5 separate regions of the Homo sapiens genome follow, and regions 1, 2, 3 and 4 are each linked to region 5. The links come from fine-mapping of genetic effects on gene expression. A gene starts in region 5. Each other region holds a variant in brackets. All regions are shown on one strand. Distances are between the middles of the regions.

Region 1 (4,119 bases), 95 kb after region 5:
TAGAGATGGGGTCTCACTGTGTTGCCCAGGCTGGTCTCCAACTCCTGGTCTTAGAAGATCCCTCCTACTTGAGTCTTCCAAGGTGTTGCGGTTGCAGGCATGAGCCACCGTGCCTGGCCTTGGTGCTCTCTATTCATGTGGGCTTGAGTTACTGTCTAGTGTCCTTTCATTTATCCTGAAGGACTCTTAGGTCTTTCAGTGATGAACTCTCTACTTTTGTTTATCTTGGAATGTTTTATTTTTCCTTTATGAAGGTAGTTTTGTGTATAAAGGTTTTTTTTTTTTTTTTTTTTTTAGACAGAGTCTCACCCTCTCGCCCAGGCTGGAGTGCAGTGGTGCCATCTCGGCTCACTGCAAGCTCTGCCTCCCAGGTTCACGCCATCCTCCTGCCTCAGCCTTCCGAGTAGCTGGGACTACAGGACTACAGGCACCTGCCATCACGCCTGGCTAATTTTTTGTATTTTTAGTAGAGACGGGGTTTCACCGTGTTAGCCAAGATGGTCTGGATCTCCTGACCTCGTGATCTGCCCACCTTGGCCTCCCAAAGTGCTGGGATTACAGGCGTGAGCCACCGCGCCCGGCCGTATAAAGGTTTTTTAGTACTCTGAGGGTATTGTCTGGCTGCACTCCATGGTTTCTGATGAGGAACCATTGCTCATCTCTCAGGACCCTCGTTCATGACACGTTGCTCCTCTGTCGCTGCTTTTGAGAGTCTCTGTCTGTGGTTTCAGCCTGATGGTGATGTGTGTAGGTGTGGAACTCTTTGCGTTTTTCTCATTTGGATTTGTTGAGCTTCTTAATTTTTTTGACTTGACTGCTGCCTTCCAGGGATTTGGGAACTTTGTGATGAGTACTTCATCTGCAGCATGCGTTGTCTTCTCACCCCTGTCTGACGTGTCATTGCGTGGTAAACAGAGCTTTGCCATACAATTGCAGTTGCAGTGTGGATTAAAGGGACAGCACTTGAGGGCCGCTCCTCCCTTCTTGTTTTGACGATGGGTGTGAGCTGTCTTGGTAAGTGGCAGTAGCAGTACGGTGACCAGGTGGCACTCGGCACGGCTGATCCCGCCGTGCATTGCGGAGCAGCACTATGGCCCACCAAGAGGCCCATACGTGGTCTCTGGGAAGCTGCTCAGCTTTCTTATGGCAGGAAAGCAGCCACGGGCAATACGTAAACAAGTGGGGGTGGTTGTGTGCTGGTAAAACTGGAAGTGTTTGGAAACTGGAATTTGAGTTTCATATCACTCTTGAAACAGTCACATACTTTTTTTTTTTTTTGAGATGGAGTCTCATTTGGTTGCCCAGGCTGGAGTGCAGTGGCGTAATTTTGGCTCACTGCAACCTCTGCCTCCCGGGTTCAAGCAATTCTCCTTCCTCAGCCTCCCGAGCAGCTGGGAGGATTACAGGCACATGCCACCACGCCCAGCTAATTTTTGTATTTTTAATAGAGACGGGGTTTCGCCATATTGGCCAGGCTGGTCTTGAACTCCTGACCTCGTGATCCACCCGCCTCGGCCTCCCAAAGTGCTGGGATTACAGG[C/T]GTGAGCCACCGGGCCCGGCCAAAAACATTCACATACTTTTTATGAGTTATGTATCTAAAAGTCTAAAAATCATGCTTAGCTTTCAGTTTGTACAGAAACAGGTGGCAGTCTGTAGTTTGCTGGCCCCTGATTGAGATCTAGTCATTGTTTCCAAAGCACCTTGTCTTTTGATGTAACATTTATTTTGTGTTTTAATTATTGGTCTTTTGGTTGTCTCAATTGCTAGATTGTAAACTCTTTGAGGTTAGGGCTCTATTTATTTATTTATTTATTATTATTTTTTTTAAGAGACAGTCTCCCTCTGTTGCCCAGGCTGGAGTGCAGTGGTGCGATCTCAGCTCACTGCAGTCTCCACCTCCCAGGTTCAAGTGATCCTCCTGCCTCAGCCTCCCAAGAAGCTGGGATTACAGGTGTGTGTCACCACGCCCGGCTAATTTTTGTATTTTTAGTAGAGACGGGGTTTCGCCATGTTGGCCAGGCTGCTCTCGAGCTCCTGGCCTCAAATGATCCGCCTGCCTCGGCCTCCCGAAGTGCTGGGATTACAGGCGTGAGCCGCCACGGCCTGCTTATTTAGCTGTATTAGTTCCCCAACCCACTGAATGTTGCCTGGCACACTTCAGGGCCTTGATAGATTGTTGTGTAACCTGATACAAAAGGAGAAAGGGCCGGAATTGGCTTGCGCCTTTATTGATTTACATATGTTTTTGTGGCCCAGGGTGAATATTTTTGGAATTAACTGACTTCTCAGTGTAGACAGGAACCATTTATCCATTCATGTGTTCCTTAATTTGTTGATTTTTGTAACAAGTACTTACTGCCTTCGTGTGCCAGCTTCTGCACTGGGAGCCACATGAGAATGCACATGGCGTCTGCCTTGTACTTACAGAAGCCCTTGTGTCCTAGTTTTGAGAAAGACAAACAATTACACACTTTGGTAATTGCTATTAAAAGAGATAAACAGGGTGTGATAGAAGCAGCGAAGAGGGGCCTCCTGTAGGTGGTTAAAGGAAGGCTGTCTGTGTTTCCATCTCTGCTGCAGACTGATACACAAGTGTCTTTTTCACTCGATTCCAAATGGAATCTTAGAGAAGGGTTGGCTTTTGTACTTGCAGCGCTGAGTGGAGAGGTGGCTGTGATCTCCAGAAACGTGGCTGCAGCCCCACGTGGGCCTCAGACCCTTGAAACATGGCCATATCGAACTGAGATGTGCTATGTGAAATGCACACTAGATTTCAGAGGCTTAGTACGATAGTTCACACTCTTTTGGTACTAATTATTTTATATTGGTTACATGTTGATAATGTTTTGGATCTATACTGAGTTAAAGGCAATTTATTAAAATTAGTTACTTCTATTTTTACTTTTTTTTTTGAGACAGAGTCTTGCTCTGTTGCCCAGGCTGGAGTGCAATGGTGTGATCTCAGCTCACTGCAGCCTCTGTCTCCCGGATTCAAGCAGTTCTCCTGCCTCAGCCTCCCGCGTAGCTGGGATGACAGGTGCCCACCACCACACCCAGCTAACTTTTTGTATTTTAAATAGGGATGGGATTTCTCCATGTTGGCCAGGCTGGTCTTGATCTCCTGGCCTCAGGTGATCCGCCTGCCTCGGCCTCCCAAAGTGTTGGGATTATAGGTGTGAGCCACTGTGCCTGGCCTATTTTTACTTTTTAAATGTAGATGCTAGAAATTTAAAATGATGTCTGTGGCATTTCCTGTCTTTCTGTGGGACAGTGGTACCTGGCCTGAGGAACATTTCAAGTTTGTGCTGCGGGCAAGAATCCTGTGACCACGGGGAGAGGACGAGGGACTCATTCTCTGGACAATGGGCTGGAAAGTAAGAGGGCTGAATGGGAGCCCCGAGGAGTGCTCCCGTTTTGTGGGAGAGAGGAGCTAGTCAGCAGGTGGAAAGCAGCCTTGGCTGCCCAACCCTGGAGCCTGGGGGAGGCCCCCGAGCGTGTGGGCTGGGGTGGTCTGGGGTGGTCTGGGGGAGGCCCACGTGCATGTGGGCTGGGGTGGCCTGGGGGAGGTGTGGCGCAGTTCTGTTGTTTTCACATCTCGCAAGGCACGTGTGTTGTCATGAGCTCTGGCCGAATTGGAGGCTGGGTTTGATCCCCTCACTGCCGCAAATCTTGTAACGTTGGATGTCTTAACTGATTTTCAGCTTTAACATTATCTCCTACTGTCTTTGAAAACACGGCTATTCATGTTCAGCTTCTTCCTTACCTTTCTGTACCTTAAATTCCAGTCCCTCAGGTTTCCTTCTGCCTGTGCTGTTTCCAGTCCCCACGTGGCTGAGCCCGCTGCAGCAGGCTTTGGTCTCCACTACTCCTCAGATGCCCTTTTGGTTATGGTCACCATTGACCTAGACATTGTCATTGGTTAGTTCTCAGCCTTCGTCTTACTGGTTCTTTCACCAGCATTTGTTATCATAATTCAAGCAAAAAAAACCTGGGATTAGTTGTCTCCGTTTGGCTTCTAGAACACTGCACTCTTCTGGTTTCCTGCCGCCTCCTTCTTCCCAGTCCTGTTTGGAGGACCCGCCTCTTAAGCCTGACTTCTAAATATTGACGTGCCCGAAG
Region 2 (4,119 bases), 62 kb before region 5:
CGAGGGTCTCCTGCATCTAGGTGCCGTGGATGCTCCTCCTCTGCAGTCCCCGTGGCCCAGCCCTCTCACAGGCTGTCCCCTGGCCTATGTCTCCCGTCCCCAGTGAGGTGGCTTCCAAAATCCACCAGACACGCAGGTCCTGATTGGCCAAGGTCAGAGTAAGGGGACGCGGCATGGTGAGGGAAGAGGCCAGGAGAGCAAGCCTGGGGACACAGAACCAAGTGAGGGCTTAAGGGCCACTCCCTGCAGACGGCGGCCAGCGGACACCTGCAAGATCCTGGGATGCACACGGCGCCGTGGCAGCACTGCGGGTAAGAGCCTGTGAACGGGGAACATGGCTCGGAGAACCAGCGCACAGCCGGCAATCATGTGCTCACAGGAAAATAGCTGATGACGTGCTGCTGAGCAGGAAAGCTGCAGAGTGGTTTATAAATGTGATTCCATTATTAAATAAATACTCAAGGCCTCCCAAAAGAAAAACACCCGTACCTGTATGCAGGCAGAAACAGATAAATGATGCTGCCCATCCCACATCCCGAATGAGTGTCCAAGACTCACACAGCCCCAGATCCTCCCTCGGACTCGGCCCCCACCTCCGGCCCCAGGCTCCTACCCGACCCACCAAAGCTCAGTCCCCGCCCTCAGTCCAACTCAGCACCGGGAGCCCTGGGCCTCCACCGCCCAGCCTTGGGGTGGCTTCAGCCGCCTGCTTGAGAGGACGCTCTGTGCACAGTGGCCGGAGCTGGCCTTCGACGCCCAAGTCTGCCCGGAGCCTTTTTTGCTCAAAGCCCCTGGTGCCCCTCCCCACTCAGAACAAGCCAGAGTCTGCAGCCTCAGCCCATCTGCGGTCCCTGAGAGCTGCTGGTGACCCCCACACCACACAGCTCTCTTCCTGGCCCCAAGGGTCCTGACCTCCTCAGGGAGCGCTGCCCCACCACCTGCGTGCCCCTGCCCCTCCCCCCGCCCTTCTGAGCCATCTCTTTTGCCTTCTTGGTCCAATTTCATCCCTGACCCAACTCGACTGCAGCTCTAGGAGAAGGTTCTTTCCTGACTGGCTTCCTGAGCACGGTGCCAGCTTCCGACAGGGCCCAGTGCTTGGTTGGCCCCAGCAGGTAAGCCAGGGATGGACGGTTGCGTGCTGCGCACCGGCTGCCAAGGGCTCAGTGTCCAGTGCCCATCTCTGCCTGGAGGTTGCAAAGCCCAGCTGCATCCCCAGCTGTTCACAGACCGCACCCAGCTTCTGCCAAGGGCTGTGACCAAGCAGCGCTGGAGACGTGCAGAGGCATCCACACCGGGCCCTGGTCGGGATAAGCGCTTGGAGCTGAGTGGCCCAAAGTGCCGGCCTGGAGTGCAGGGCTGGCCAAGTGTCGCCGTGGGGCTCATGGACCCCTGGAGGGGACCCCAGCCCTGGAGTAAATACCCAAACCGGCAGCCCCAGTAAAGGACCCTGCCTGACGCATGTGCAGCTGTGTCTGTGCAGGAAAAGAACCGGGGCACTGGCGCCTCAGCACCACCTGAGCAGCTGTAAGAGGGAGGCGCCCACGTCTTCATCTCGTGCCTGGGGGCTCTTAGGTCTTTTTGCAGCCTACACAGCCTTTGTGATAAAACTCCACAATGACAGACAAGAAAAATGAAGCAAAATAAAACCCTCCACACGTGTTCCTCCTGGCAGCCTCTGCTCCTCTGGGGGAACCAGCCACACCGGCACGGAACCGGCTGTGCCAGCCACAGAGCCTCCAGTTCTACCCAACCCCAGCTGGCCCCCGAGAGGCCGTCCCATCCAGCCTCCACCTGCCTGTCAGGGGCATCTCAGGAGCCTGGGCCACCACCACAACCTGGCACGCCCTGCGAGGTGTCCCCAGCATCACCTTCACCGCACGCACTTCAGCCCCTCACTGCAGCTGAGCCTTGGCCACACGGGAGGAGCGGGGGACTCAGGCCCAGATGATGTGTCTCCGCCTCTAGGCGCTGAGTGGAAGGCAGGTGGCTTCTATAATCAGGAGGAAATAACTCCCAGATAGCAAACAAACAATGCACACACACACCAAAGTGCTGCTGAGCACAGAAAGACGGAGAACCGCCTCCTCATCCTGAGCTTCGGCCTGAACGCTGCTCTCGTGGTCTGATGTCTCGTCCCGAGCTTCACTTGCAGTCTGATGTCTCGTCCCGAGCTTCGGCCCGAACGCGGCTCTCGCGGTCTGATGTCTCGTCCCGAGCTTCGGCCCGAACGTGGCTCTCTGATGTGGATTTATTTTTATTTTTCCTGCAGCTTTTCCTTGGGAATCCCTTTCCTCTCGCCTCTCCAGGGACTGAGGTGTCAGAGTCCTCATTTGAGGCGGAATGGGGGAGGCCATTGCTAGTTCCATATGGCCTTAGCCTTGGGAAAA[A/G]GCACTGGTGAGGTTCTGGCTCTGGGCCAGAAGGGAGGTGGAGCAGACACAGGCCACCTGTCACCAGTCATGATCAGAGAGGGACAGAGCTCGAGGCAGCTCTCGCAAGACTCCAAAGGATGGAGAGGAAGGCAGGCTGGCCGGGGACCTCGGACTCATGGAGGAACCACTTGACTCAGGCCAAGAAAGAAGCAGAGTCTGCTTCCCAGCCACATGGCTGCCACAGACGGAGGGGTCTGTCCCTCCCTCCCCATGGGAGCTGCCTCTAGGGACACTGACTGGCACCAAGCAAGCACCAGCAGACATCCCCCCCCAACTGTGCACCCCCCGACCAGCCAGCATCCTCCCAACTGTCCACCACCCACAGCAGGAAACCTCTTCACCAACTGTCCACCGCCCACACCAGCAGACATCCCTCCAACTGTGCACCCCCTGACCAGCAGACATCCCTCCCAACTGTGTACCCCCTAACCAGCAGACATCCCAACTGTCTACTCACTGACCAGCAGACATCCCCCCAACTGTGCACCCTCTGACCAGCAGACATGCCTCCCAACTGTGTACCCCCTAACCAGCAGACATCCCAACTGTCTACTCACTGACCAGCAGACATCCCCCCAACTGTGCACCCGCTGACCAGCAGACATCCCTCCCAACTGTGCACCCCCTGACCAGCAGACATCCCCCCAACTGTGCACCCCTGCAGAGAAAGCAGAGGAGGCCCCACCTCCTGCCAACTAGAGGTAGGAGATCAAGAAAGCCTCGAATCTGTAATGAAGACGCAGCCTGTGCCAGGGTCAGGTGTTCGGGTCTGAGAGCTGAAGATGGCGCAGAATGCAGCCTTCACACTGGGCCTGGGCAGCACCTAGTAGGCAGACCAGGGTCAGTTCACGTTCAAACCACACTCCACAAACGTTGGCCAGGACATGCCCTGTGAATACAAGCACACTAACAGTGAAAATTGAAGACTTAAATGGGAACCAGAGTCTCATAGCCTAACACTCAAAACATCAGGACACAAAATCCACAGTGACCAGGATGGGTCCACAGTGACCAGGCCACATCCATGGTGACCCAGTATGCCAAGAGCAAGGAGGATCTGAACCAGAGGAGTAAAAACAATCCACAGATAAAAACGACCGCATGTCACAGACGGAATTATTTCTCCAGGACGATAAAGCTGTTATCATTACCAGCTAGAACCAGCAATCCTGAACACTCCTGAAACAAAGACAAAGAGAGAACGTCCTAGCAAAGAAACAGGAGGCACACAGAAGAACCAAAACACGATGACAGAACATTTTTTTAAAACTCTCTGATAGGCCTCAAAGCAGAATCGAGATGACAAAAAGCCAAAGATCCTGAAGATAGATCAAAAGAAACAATTCCATCTTAACATCAGAGAGAGAAAAAAAAGGTTTAAAAAATGAGCAGTGCCCCAGAGACCTTGGGGACAATAACGCGAGGTCTAACACTTGTGCCACTTTATTTCCAGAAGAGGTGGAGGGGCACACGAGTGGAAGAATCGTTTGAAGACATATAGACTGAACACTTCCAAAATGTGTTAAAAGCTATAAACCTACGGGTCCAAGACGAAGAAACCCCAAACAGGACAGATCCAAAGTATTCATGCTCAGACACTTCCAAATCACATTTCTGAAAACTAAAGACAGAGAAAAACACCTTTTTGTGTGTGTGTTTTGAGGCAGGGTCTTGCTCTGTTGACCAGGCT
Region 3 (4,119 bases), 75 kb after region 5:
ACCAACTTTAGGGGTCGACTATGGACTTCCATTAATGGTGAATTAGTGTAAGATTTAGATTAGAGAAGATTTTTGTTCTCTTATGTTCATCCTGCCCCAATCAGAATGTATGTTCTTGGCCAGGGCCAGCAGCTCATGCCTGGGAGGCCGAGATGAGAGGATCCCCTGAGCCCAGGAGTTTGAGACTAGCCTGGGCAACAGAGTGAGACCTTGTCTCTACTAGAAGTAAAAAAGTTAGCTGGGTGTGGTGGTGGTATGTGCCTGTAGTCCCAGCTACTTGAGGGGCTGAGGTGGGAGGATCGCTTGATCCCAGGAGGCCAAGGCTGCAGTGAGCTGTGATTGTGCCACTGCCCTGCAGCCTGGGTGACAGAGCAAAATCCTGTCTCAAAAAAAAAAAAAAAAAAATACAGCCAGGCGCGGTGTCTCACACCTGTAATCCCAGCACTTTGGGAGGCTGAGGTGGGTGGATCACGAGGTCAGGAGATCGAGACCATCCTGGCTAACACACAGTGAAACCCTGTCTCTGCTAAAAATACAAGAAAATTAGCCGGGTGTGGTGGCGGCCGCCTGTAGTCCCAGCTACTCGGGAGGCTGAGGCAGGAGAAGGGCGTGAACCCGGGAGGTGGAGCTTGTAGTGAGCCAAGATCATGCCACTGCACTCCAGCCTGGGCGACAGAGCAAGACTCCGTCTCAAAAAAAAAAAAAAGAAAAAAAAGAATGCATGTTCCCTCTGCCTGGTACACAGCATCATCCAAAGGAGTCTCCTCACCTTTCCCTGTGTCTGATGCTGCTCACTGTTTATTCCCTCCTGGTGATGGAACACACTCTCCGTTAGCTAGCCAGGAAGGTGTGGTAAGCGGTGAACTTTTGGGGTTTGCGTGTCTGAAAATGTATTTACTCTTTTTTTTTTTTGAGATGGAGGTCCGCTCCGTCGCCCAGGCTGGAGTGCAGTGGCACTATCTCTGCTAACTGCAGCCTCCGCCTCCTGGGTTCAAGCGATTCTCCTGCCTCAGCCTCCCAAGTAGCTGGGATTACAGGTGCTTGCTACCACGCCTGTGCCTGGCTAATTTTTGTATTTTTGGTAGAGACGGGGTTTCAACTTCTTGGCGAGGCTGCTCCTGAACTCCCAACCTCAGGTGACCTGCCCACTTCGGCCTCCTAAAGTGCTGGGACTACAGGAGTGAGCCTCCGCACCCGGCCGCAAATGTCTTTATTCTGCCCGTGCGCTTAGTAAGTTTGGCTGGTAGGTTGGAAAGTCATTTTGAAGTCATAGCTCCAATATCTTTCAGTTTTCATTGTTGCTCTTGAGAAGTCTGGTTTGGTCTTTTTTCTTTTTGAGACAGTCTGGAGGAGTGGTTCAATGATAGTTCTCTGCAGCCTTGACCTCCCGGGCTGAAGTAATCTTCCTGCCTCAGTGCCCTGAGTAGTACCTGGGACGGCAGGTGTGTGCCGCCATACCCGGTTGATTTTTCTTTCTTTCTTTTTTTTTTTTTTTTTGAGATGGAGTCTTACCCTGTTGCCCAGGCTGGAGTACAGTGGCGCCATCTCGGCTTACTGCAACCTCCGTCTCCTGGGCTCAAGTGGTTCTCCTGGCTCAGCCTCCTGAGTAGGTGGCATTAACAGGTGTGTACCATCACGCCCAGATAATTTTTTTGTATTTTTAGTAGAGACGGGGTTTCACCATATTGGCTAGGCTGGTCTTGAACTCCTGACCTTGTGATCTGCCCACCTCAGCCTTTCAAAGTGCTAGGATTACAGGCCAGGCATTAGGCACTATGCCCGGCCTCTTTTTTTTTTTTTTTTTTGAGACATGGTTTCACCCAGTCTGGCATCCAGTTGCCCAGGCTGGCATGCAGTGGTGTGTGATCTTGTCTTTCTGCAACCTGCCCGGTTCAGGCAATTCTCCTGCCTCAGCCTCCCGAGTAGCTGTGATTACAGGTGGGCACCACCACGCCTGGCTAATTTTTGTAATTTTAGTAGAGACAGGGTTT[C/T]GCCATATCGGCCAGGCAGGTCTCGAACTCCTGACCTCAAGTAAGTGATCCACCTTCCTCAGCCTCCCAAAGTGCTGGGATTACAGGTTTGAGCCACCATGCCTGGACTCCAGCTGATTTTTGTATTTTTAGTTGGGATGGGGTTTTACCATGTTGGCCAGGCTGGTCTCGAACTCCTGACCTCAAATGATCCATCCGCCTCAGCCTCCCAAAGTGTTGGGATTACAGGCGTGAGCCACTGTTCCCGGCAGTGATTTTTCTGTTTTTGTAGAGACAGGGCCTTGCCATGTTGCCCAGGCTGGTCTTGAACTCGGCCTCCTGAAGTTCTGGGATTAAAGGCATGATCCACCGAGCCTGGCCCAGTTTCATTCTTCTTTTTTTTTTTTTTGAGATGGAGTTTTGCTCTTTTCACCCAGGCTGGAGTGCAGTGACGCGATTGGGTTCACCGCAACCTCCACCTCCTGGGTTCAAGTGATTCTCTTGTCTCAGCCTCCCAAGTAGCTGGGATTACAGGCTCCTGCCACCCCGCCCCGCTAATTTTTGTATTTTCGGTAGAGATGGGGTTTCGCCATATTGGCTGGGCTGGTCTAAAATTCCTGACCTCAGGTGATCCACCCGCCTCAGCCTCCCAAAGTGCTTGGATTCCAGGCGTGGGCCACCTTGCTGGCAAGGCCCAATTTCATTCTTAACCGTTTGCAAGCACTATTCCCTTGCCGAACCTTTAGGATCGTTGCATCCGTGATTTTCCTAATATTTATCATGCGTTTAGTGCTAGCCTTTTGTTATGTATTATGCAGGTGCCTAAGTAGCTGTGAAATCTGAAGATTGACACCCTTTCATTATAGGAGGTTTTTTGTTGTTGTTGTTGTTGTTGGAGAGAGACAGTCTCACTATGTTGCTCAGGCTGGTCTTGAACTCCTGGGCTCAAGCAAGCCTCTTGCCTCAGCTTCCAAGTAGCTGGGACTACAGGCACGTGCTACCATGCCTGGCTAATTTTTGTATTTTTAGTAGAGATGGGGTTTTGTCATGTTGACCAGTTTGGTCTCACATTCCTGACCTCAAGTGATCTGCCCGCCTCGGCCTCCCAAAGTGCTGGGATTACCTGTGTGAGCCACCGTGTGTGGCCGACAGTTTATTCTTTACTGTTTTCTCTGTGTTCTCCTTTTCCGTTTCCTTTAGTTGAATGTTGGACTTCCTGTATTTAGTTTTCTGATTTTAAGTATATTTTCTTGTCATGTCTTGGTCTTGTTCTATTTTGGGGGAGCATTTTTGACCACTTCTCAATTTTTTTAATCGAATTTTTAACTTCAGTTGTTATTTATATATATATTTTTTGTTTTGTTTTGTTTTTGTTTTTTTTTGAGACGAAGTTTTGCTCTTGTTGCCCAGGCTGGAGTGCAGTGGGGCGATCTCGGCTCACTGCAACCTCTGCCTCCCGGGTTCAAGTGATTCTCCTGCCTCAGCCTCTCGAGTAGCTGGAATCACAGGCATGCACCACCAAGCCTGGCTAATTTTGTATTTTTTTTTTTTTTTTTAGTAGAGTTGGGGTTTCTGCATGTTGGTCAGGCTGGTCTCAAACTCCTGACCTCAGGTGATCCACCCGCCTTGGCCTCCCAAAGTGCTGAGATTACAGGCGTGAGCCACCACGCCTGGCCCAGTTGTTATATTTTTATATTCTTTACTGTTTTCTATTCTTTTTAGTATCTCCTGTTCTTGTTTTATATATATAGTATCTTTGCTTATTTATTTTAATTACAATTAAAATTTTAAAATTACAGTTAAAGTTATTAAAAAACTATTTAAAAAATGTCTCAGCCTGTGCAACACAGCAAGACCCTAAAATCTGGGACTTCCAGCATGCACCACCATGACCAGCTGGTGCGTGCCTGAAATCCCAGCTACTCAGGAGGCTGAGGCAGGAGGATTGCTTGAGTCCGGGAGGTTGAGGCTGCAGTGAGCCATGATCACACCACTGCACTCCAGCCTGGGTGACAGAGTGAGAGAGACTGTCTCTAACCAAAAAAAAAAAAAAAAAAGTTGTTTCCTTCATTTTTTGTGTTTTCCCTGCATTCGTTCCTCTTTGCTGTCTTATCTCTTAGTCTTTCTTCTATGATGTAACCTTTCCTTT
Region 4 (4,119 bases), 290 kb after region 5:
CCGTCCCTCCTGTATCCTCCATGCCACCGTCCCCCTGTATCCTCCACGCCACTGTCCCCCTCCGTATCCTCCATGCCACCGTCCCCCTGTATCCTCCATGCCACCGTCCCCCCGTATCCTCCACGCCACCGTCCCCCTCCGTATCCTCCACGCCACCGTCCCTCCTGTATCCTCCACGCCACCGTCCCCCTGTATCCTCCACGCCACCGTCCCCCCGTATCCTCCATGCCACCGTCCCCCCGTATCCTCCACGCCACCGTCCCCCTCCGTATCCTCCACGCCACCGTCCCTCCTGTATCCTCCATGCCACCATCCCCCCCAGTATCCTCCATGCCACCATCCCCCCCATATGCTTCACGCCACCATGCCCCTCTGTATCCTCCACACCACCGTCCCCCCTCCGTATCCTCCACGCCACCGTCCCTCCTGTATCCTCCATGCCACCATCCCCCCCTGTATCCTCCACGCCACCATCCCCCCATATCCTCCACGCCACCGTCCCCCGTATCCTCCACACCACCATCCCCCCTCTGTATCATCCACGCCACCGTCCCCCTGTATCCTCCACGCCACCATCCCCCCATATCCTCCACGCCACCGTCCCCCGTATCCTCCACACCACCGTCCCCCCTCTGTATCATCCACGCCACCGTCCCCCTGTATCCTCCACGCCACCATCCCCCCATATCCTCCACGCCACCGTCCCCCTCCATATCCTCCACGCCACCATCCCCCCGGTATCCTCCACACCACCATCCCCGTCTGTGTCATCCATGCCACCACTCCTGAACCCCAGACACCAATCTGTTCCTGTCAGTATAGATTAACATTTCTGTTCTGGAATTTCCTATAATTGGGTCCATGGAGTGCGCACTTCATTGCCTCTGGCTTCTTTGACCCAACATGTATTTTATTTATTTTTAAAAATCTTGGCCAGGCGCAGTGGCTCATGCCTGTAATCCCAGCACTTTGGGAGGCTGAGACGGGCAGATCACGAGGTCAGGAGATCGAGACCATCCTGGCTAACACGGTGAAACCCCGTCTCTACTAAAAATACAAAAAAATTAGCCAGGCGTGGTGGTGGGCGCCTGTATTCCCAGCTACTCGGGAGGCTGAGGCAGGAGAATGGCTTGAACTGGGGAGGCGGAGCTTGCAGTGAGCCGAGATCGCACCACTGCACTCCAGCCTGAGCGACAGAGTGAGACTCTGTCTCGAAAAAAAAAAAAAAATCTTTTTGGTGCAGGGGCACACGTGCAGGTTTGTTAAACAGGGAAACTCGTGTCATGGGGGTTTGTTGCACAGATTATTTCATCACCCAGGTACTAAGCCAAGTACCCATTAGTTGTTTTTCCTGATCCTCTCGCTCCTCCCACCCTCCACTCCTAAGTAGGTCCCAGTGTCTCTTGTTCTTTGTGTTCATGAGCCCTCATCATTTAGTTCCCATTTATAACTGAGAACATGCGGTATTTGTTTTTCTGTTCCCGCATTAGTTTGCTAAAGATAATAGCCTCCAGCTCCATCCACGTTCCCACAAAAGACATGATCTCATTCTTTTTTATGGCTGCATAGTATTCCGTGGTG[C/T]GTATGTACCACATTTTCATCCAGTCTGCCACTGGTGGGCATTTAGATTGATTCCACATCTTGGAATCGTGCTATTGTGAATAGTGCTGCAATGAACATAGACGTGCACGTGTCTTTATTAACATTTGTTGACATTTTAAAACATCAAAACAATCTCAACCTTACAGAACAGCTGCAAGTACAATACAGAAATCTTTTTTCTCTGATCTGCTGGAGAATAAATTCCTGACTTCGTACCCCATCATCCCCAAATACTTCCATGAATATTTCCTACACACAGGCGGTCCTGTGTAACCACAGCGAGCTGTCAACATCAGGACATGAACCCGCACCTCATGCCCGACGTAGGCTTCCCTTCGGTCCCAACCCCGAGCGTCGCTGAGCCTTGTGAATCTTCCTTTTCTACTGACCCATCTGACCTCTCACCTCCTCCCAGACTGCTCCTCCTCAGGTCGCTCCCCGCCAGGCTGAATCAGGCTCCAGCTCTTCTTCAGCCTCTGCTCCTCCACCCTATAACCCTTCTATTACCTCCCTCCCACACCCAGTCTGGTTAACAGTTTCGTTCTGCGACCAGCTCTCCCCCACCTGCCCAACAATTTCCTCTTAGAGAGGTGGCTGGAGCTGAAGGCATAGTCAGGGTACATGCGCCTTTTTCTCTATCAGACCTTTCCCAAATCAGCCAACGTTTAGGCTCTTTCTCATCAGACCCCACTAAATATATACAGGAATTCCGACATCTAACTCTGTCCTACAGTTTAACCTGGAGTGCCTTAAATGTCATCCTAACTTCTACCCTCTCCCCAGATGAACGGGAAAGAGTATTTTCTCTAGTCCAATCTCATGCTGACAACCACTGGCTCCAAGAGCCAGACCTCCCGGAAGGCATCAGAGCAGTTCCCTGAGAAGTTCCCCAGTGGAACTACCAGGCAGATTCCCCAGGTATAGCTAGGCGAGATTACATGGTTTCCTGCCTAGTTGAAGGGCTTAAAAAGGCAGCTTACAAAACTGTTAATTATGACAAACTTAAAGAAACTACCCAAGGTAAAGACGAAAACCCAGCCCAGTTCATGGCCCGCTTGGCAGTAACCCTTAGACGCTTTACCACCCTAGACCCAGAGGGGCCAGAGGGACGCCTTATTCTTAATATGCATTGTATCACCCAGTCAGCTCCTGACATTAGAAAAAAGCTTCAAAAATTGGAATCCGGCCCTCAAACCCCACAACAGGAATTAATCAACCTCACCTTCAAGGTGTACAATAATAGAGAGGAGGCAGCCAGACAGCAACGCATTTCTGAGTTACAGCTACTCGCCTCCGATGTAAGACAACCCACAACCACGTCTCCAGCATCCAAGAACTTCAGGACATCCAAGCCACAGCTCCCAGGGGCTCCTTCAAAACATCCTCGTGGATCTTGCTTCAAAGGCCGAAAGCCTGGCCACTGGGCCTCAGAATGCCTGCAGCCCGGGATTCCTCCTAAGCCGTGCCCTGTCTGTGCGGGCCCCCACTGGAGGTTGCATTGTCCCCCAGGATTCCTCCTAAGCCGTGCCCTGTCTGTGCGGGCCCCCACTGGAGGTTGCATTGTCCCCCAGGATTCCTCCTAAGCCGTGCCCTGTCTGTGCGGGCCCCCACTGGAGGTTGCATTGTCCCCCAGGATTCCTCCTAAGCCGTGCCCTGTCTGTGCGGGCCCCCACTGGAGGTTGCATTGTCCCCCAGGATTCCTCCTAAGCCGTGCCCTGTCTGTGCGGGCCCCCACTGGAGGTTGCATTGTCCCCCAGGATTCCTCCTAAGCCGTGCCCTGTCTGTGCGGGCCCCCACTGGAGGTTGCATTGTCCCCCAGGATTCCTCCTAAGCCGTGCCCTGTCTGTGCGCGCCCCCACTGGAGGTTGCATTGTCCCCCAGGATTCCTCCTAAGCCGTGCCCTGTCTGTGCGCGCCCCCACTGGAGGTTGCATTGTCCCCCAGGATTCCTCCTAAGCCGTGCCCTGTCTGTGCGCGCCCCCACTGGAGGTTGCATTGTCCCCCAGGATTCCTCCTAAGCCGTGCCCTGTCTGTGCGCGCCCCCACTGGAGGTTGCATTGTCCCCCAGGATTCCTCCTAAGCCGTGCCCTGTCTGTGCGCGCCCCCACTGGAGGTTGCATTGTCCCCCAGGATTCCTCCTAAGCCGTGCCCTGTCTGTGCGCGCCCCCACTGGAGGTTGCATTGTCCCCCAGGATTCCTCCTAAGCCGTGCCCTGTCTGTGCGCGCCCCCACTGGAGGTTGCATTGTCCCCCAGGATTCCTCCTAAGCCGTGCCCTGTCTGTGCGCGCCCCCACTGGAGGTTGCATTGTCCCCCAGGATTCCTCCTAAGCCGTGCCCTGTCTGTGCGCGCCCCCACTGGAGGTTGCATTGTCCCCCAGGATTCCTCCTAAGCCGTGCCCTGTCTGTGCGCGCCCCCACTGGAGGTTGCATTGTCCCCCAGGATTCCTCCTAAGCCTCCTAAGCCGTGCCCTGTCTGTGCGCGCCCCCACTGGAGGTTGCATTGTCCCCCAGGATTCCT
Region 5 (4,088 bases):
AAACCCCTATGAGCCATCTGGATTCTGAGAACATTCAACACCAGTTCACATGCCAAACAAGGAGGCAGCGGCCGAGAAGGCTCTGTGTCCTGCAGTCTCCTGGAGCAGCAGGACTTCAGAAGTCCAGGTCCGCGGGAGGGAGGGAAGAGAGGGTGAGGGCAGGATGGTGAGTGAACGACAGCAGAGGACGCTGGTGGTTCCAAGAAGTGAAAGAGAAAACGAGAAGACGAGAAGACGACACCAGCCAGACAGGCAGCCCTCTCCATTCCTGCTGGCATCACACCTTCCTCCCAGGCAGCCAGGAACCGGATAGGGCAGGGGAAGCCACTGGTTCAGCCTGAAAGTTTCTACACAAGAGCCAAGGCCTAAAACAACACCCACCCCCGCCTCACTGCAGAGAGCAGGACTCCCATCCGTGCCAGAAAATCCAGGGAAGGGCCGGGCGCAGTGGCTCACGCCTGCAATCCCAGCACTTTGGGAGGCTGAGGCGGGCGGATCATGAGGTCAGGAGATCGAGACCATCCTGGCTAACACGGTGAAACCCCGTCTCTACTAAAAATTCAAAAATTAGCCGGGCGTGGTGGTGGGTGCCTGTAGTCCCAGCTACTTGGGAGGCTGAGGCAGGAGAATGGCGTGAACCCGGGAGGCAGAGCTTGCAGTGAGCTGAGATTGTGCTACTGCACTCCAGCCTGGGCGACAGAGCGAGACTCCATCTCAAAAAAAAGAAAACTCAGGGAAGTCAGAAGAGCACTCAGAAACGCATTTAAAGACACAATTCTGCACCAAGACAGAATGAGGACGTGCCCAGAAAGCTGAGCCCTTCGAACTTGGTTCAGAAGCAAATACAAGCCCTGGGAGCTTCTGCTTCAGGACAGGGGAACCCCTACGCTCACTCTCAACCAGGTGGGGAGCAGAGAAGCACCTACGACCATGTCCCTCACTTAAGGAAGCGAAGTGAGTCCCTCAGCCCAGCAACCGCTTCTGGGACCGATTATCCAAGGAAGGCCTATCACGCGATGGCCCGTGACCTGGTCACAGGCTCTCCTGCGGTGGAGCGGCTCAGCCTTTTCTAGCTTTTCACTGTTGCTTTAATGGGTCCAGTGTTCTGGTTTAGGAAATAAGGCCTTTGCCATGTGGCTACAGATGTTTGACTAAGAAAAAGATTCTAGGGCTGGGCACAGTGTCTCACGCCTGTAATCCCAGCACTTTGGGAGGCCGAGGCGGGCAGATCATGAGGTCAAGAGTTCAAGACTAGGCCGGGCACGGTGGCTCATGCCTGTAATCCCTGCACTTTGGGAGGCCAAGGCGGGCGGATCACGAGGTCAGGAAATCGAGACCATCCTGGCTAACACAGTGAAACACCGTCTCTACTGAAAATACAAAAAAATATTAGCCGGGCGTGGTGGTGGGCGCCTGTAGTCCCAGCTACTTGGGAGGCCGAGGCAGGAGAATGGCGTGAACCTGGGAGGCAGAGCTTGCAGTGAGTTGAGATCGTGCCACTGCAATCCAGCTTGGGCGACAGAGCAAGACTCCGTCTCAAAAAAAAAAAAAAAAAAAGTTCAAGACCAGCCTGGCCAACATGGCGAAACCCCGTTTCTACTAAGAATACAAAAATTAGCCGGGCGTGGTGCCTGTAGTCCCAGCTACCCGGGAGGCTGAGGCAGAATTGCCTGAACCCAGGAGGCGGAGGTTGCTGTGAGCCAAGATCACACCATTGCACACCAGCCTGGGCGACAGAGCGAGACTCCGTCTTGGGAAAAAAAAAAACACAGAAAAAGGTTCTAAGCAAAACCATCAGGCAAAGTCCTAAAGGAACTGGAAGTAGCAACTGTGACCTTAGGGGAAGAAAAGACAAGGCCTCAGGCAATGCCCATGGGCCACCGCTGGCTGCCCTCGCTGTGAACAATGCCCATGGGCCACCACTGGCTGTCTGCTGTGACAGGCGCGTCTAACAAGTGCTGGCAGCTGTGACAGGCAGCAGAGAGGGGCCAGATCCACCACTCCCACAGTCCTCAGGCGCCAAGAAGCCACGGGGCCAAAGAGCGCGGCAGAGCAGACGCCAAGAGGACCCTTCTCTGGGTCCAGAAATGCCCCCCAACTGGGAAATCCAGGCATCTGGTCCCCCGAGTTACATACCTGTGGGCTGTCATCTTTCTCTTCCTCCATGGCCAGAAACAGAAAAAACAGTCAGGGGCGAAAAGCAGACAGCCTGAAGCAAACAAGGGCACACCTCTACCCGCTCATGCTCACACCTGGACACTTTTCCCTGGGTTCCTTTCAAGTCAAATTATGTTTCACTGAAAGGAAAATCCTGCTGAAAAAGTCTGTTCTCCAGGAAGAAAAGCTGTCTTTTGAGAAGTGTCTGTCATCTGCTAGGAGCCACCTCCTTCCCTCTGTAAACAGCCCTCACGTGGCTGTCCCGGAACCCAGAACAGCAGCCAGATGGGGCGTATCCAAGCAGGTCAAGAGGAGCCAGGCCCAGCGCGGCGGGGATGGGGGCAGCGCTGCCTTCTGGAGAAGCACGGCTGGAGGGGAGGTGACGCTGGCGGGGCGTGGATCCGGGGTGTGGGGATGCAGCTGGGGAGGAGGGTGCAGCTGGGGAGGGGGTGGATCCGGCGTGTAGGGGTACCGCTGGGGAGTGGGTGCAGCTGGGGAGGGGGTGGATCTGGGGTGTGGGGGTGCCGCTGGGGAGTGGGTGCAGCTGGGGAGGGGGTGGATCCGGCGTGTAGGGGTACCGCTGGGGAGTGGGTGCAGCTGGGGAGGGGGTGGATCTGGGGTGTGGGGGTACTGCTGGGGAGAGGGTGCAGCTGGGGAGCGCGTGGATCCGGCGAGTGGGGGTACCGCTAGGGAGGGGGTGCAGCTGGGGAGGGGGTGGATCTGGGGTGTGGGGGTGCCGCTGGGGAGGGGGTGCAGCTGGGGAGGGGGTGGATCTGGGGCGTGGGGGTGCCGCTGGGGAGGGGGTGCAGCTGGGGAGGGGGTGGATCTGGGGCGTGGGGGTGCCGCTGGGGAGGGGGTGCAGCTGGGGAGGGGATGGATCTGGGGTGTGGGGGTACCGCTGGGGAAGGGCGTGCAGCTGGAGAGGGGATGGATCTGGGCTGTGGGGGTGCCGCTGGGGACGGGGTGCAGCTGGGGAGGGGGTGGATCCGGATTGTGAGGGTGCGGCTGGGGGGCGACTTCCGCGTGGGGTGAGAGGTCGCCTGCGAGGGTGACCGGGCAGGAGGGCTCAGTGCGCAAGCCGGACGTGCTGGGTCCAAGATTATTGATTAATTTGGGCACCGCGAGGGCTCGAGTCCCCCCACACCACTGCCCGGCCTGCGGGGGAGCACAGACAGCCCGGGCCCTCCCGGCTGCAGGTCCCGGGCTTTCCCCGCGCGGTTGCCGGCTCCGCCCAGAGGAGCCGCGCCCGGCGGAGGGGTAAGAAAGGCAGGGTCGCGGCGTCAACGCGGCGGCCGTCTCGAGTCCAGGGCCCGCGTCCTCCCCGACCTCCCGACGCCACCTCACGGCCTCAGGGGGACTGGGCTCCCGGGAAACCGCCGGCCACCTGGCGGACGAACACAGGCAGTGGCGGGCAGTGGAGACGCCAGGGACCACCGCGCTGAGAGCGATCACTCATCCGCCAGCCCCGCCCCGCGAGCCCCGCCCCGCGAGCCCCGCCCCGCGAGCCCCGCCCCGCGAGCCCCGCCCCGCGAGCCCCGCCCCGCGAGCCCCGCACCGCCGGCCCCGCACCGCCAGCCCCGCGAGCCCCGCCCCGCCCCGCGCGCTCCTCGCATTGGCCGAGTCCCCGCGGCCACACCCCCTACCAGATTGGGGCCGCTATTGGACGCGGCGGCCGCGGCCAATCGGAGCCGCTCTTGCTGCGACGCAGCGGTCGGAAGCGGAGCAAGGTCGAGGCCGGGTTGGCGCCGGAGCCGGGGCCGCTTGGAGCTCGTGTGGGGTCTCCGGTCCAGGTGAGTCTGTCGGATTGGGGCGGGCGCCGCGCGCGGCCAGGGGCGGGGCTGGCCGGGTTCCCGGGGCCGCGACTACCCGCTCTCTCCTCCCGCAGGGCGCGGCATGGGCGTCCTGGCCGCAGCGGCGCGCTGCCTGGTCCG

The links. PIP is the estimated chance that this variant, and not a neighbour inherited with it, causes the effect. A credible set is the group of variants that fine-mapping cannot tell apart.
Region 1: its variant is the best candidate, but not a certain one, in a credible set for the expression of PNPLA7 in whole blood (TOPMed, PIP 0.85).
Region 2: its variant is the best candidate, but not a certain one, in a credible set for the expression of PNPLA7 in pancreas (GTEx, PIP 0.63).
Region 3: its variant is the best candidate, but not a certain one, in a credible set for the expression of PNPLA7 in whole blood (TOPMed, PIP 0.83).
Region 4: its variant is the best candidate, but not a certain one, in a credible set for the expression of PNPLA7 in prefrontal cortex (ROSMAP, PIP 0.86).

Annotation. Positions count from the first base shown.
Region 1 is chr9:137,643,065-137,647,183 of GRCh38, forward strand. The region is part of intron 1 of EHMT1 (euchromatic histone lysine methyltransferase 1); the gene reads left to right. Among named protein-coding and RNA genes, the nearest start is that of EHMT1, 26 kb to the left of the region's middle. The variant C/T (reference allele first, on the strand shown) is at 1,541.
Region 2 is chr9:137,486,023-137,490,141 of GRCh38, forward strand. The region is part of intron 20 of PNPLA7 (patatin like domain 7, lysophospholipase); the gene reads right to left. Among named protein-coding and RNA genes, the nearest start is that of NSMF, 29 kb to the left of the region's middle. The variant A/G (reference allele first, on the strand shown) is at 2,388.
Region 3 is chr9:137,622,521-137,626,639 of GRCh38, forward strand. The region is part of intron 1 of EHMT1 (euchromatic histone lysine methyltransferase 1); the gene reads left to right. Among named protein-coding and RNA genes, the nearest start is that of EHMT1, 5.6 kb to the left of the region's middle. The variant C/T (reference allele first, on the strand shown) is at 1,992.
Region 4 is chr9:137,842,010-137,846,128 of GRCh38, forward strand. No RefSeq gene overlaps it. Among named protein-coding and RNA genes, the nearest start is that of MIR602, 5.6 kb to the left of the region's middle. The variant C/T (reference allele first, on the strand shown) is at 1,582.
Region 5 is chr9:137,548,032-137,552,119 of GRCh38, forward strand. PNPLA7 (patatin like domain 7, lysophospholipase) reads right to left here and starts at 2,371. Exons shown (of 35, transcript NM_001098537.3): 1 at 2,137-2,371. The coding sequence starts at 2,166. MRPL41 (mitochondrial ribosomal protein L41) reads left to right here and starts at 3,848. Exons shown (of 2, transcript NM_032477.3): 1 at 3,848-3,947; 2 at 4,043-4,088. The coding sequence starts at 4,051. RefSeq lists an enhancer at 1,480-1,981 and a silencer at 3,170-4,088.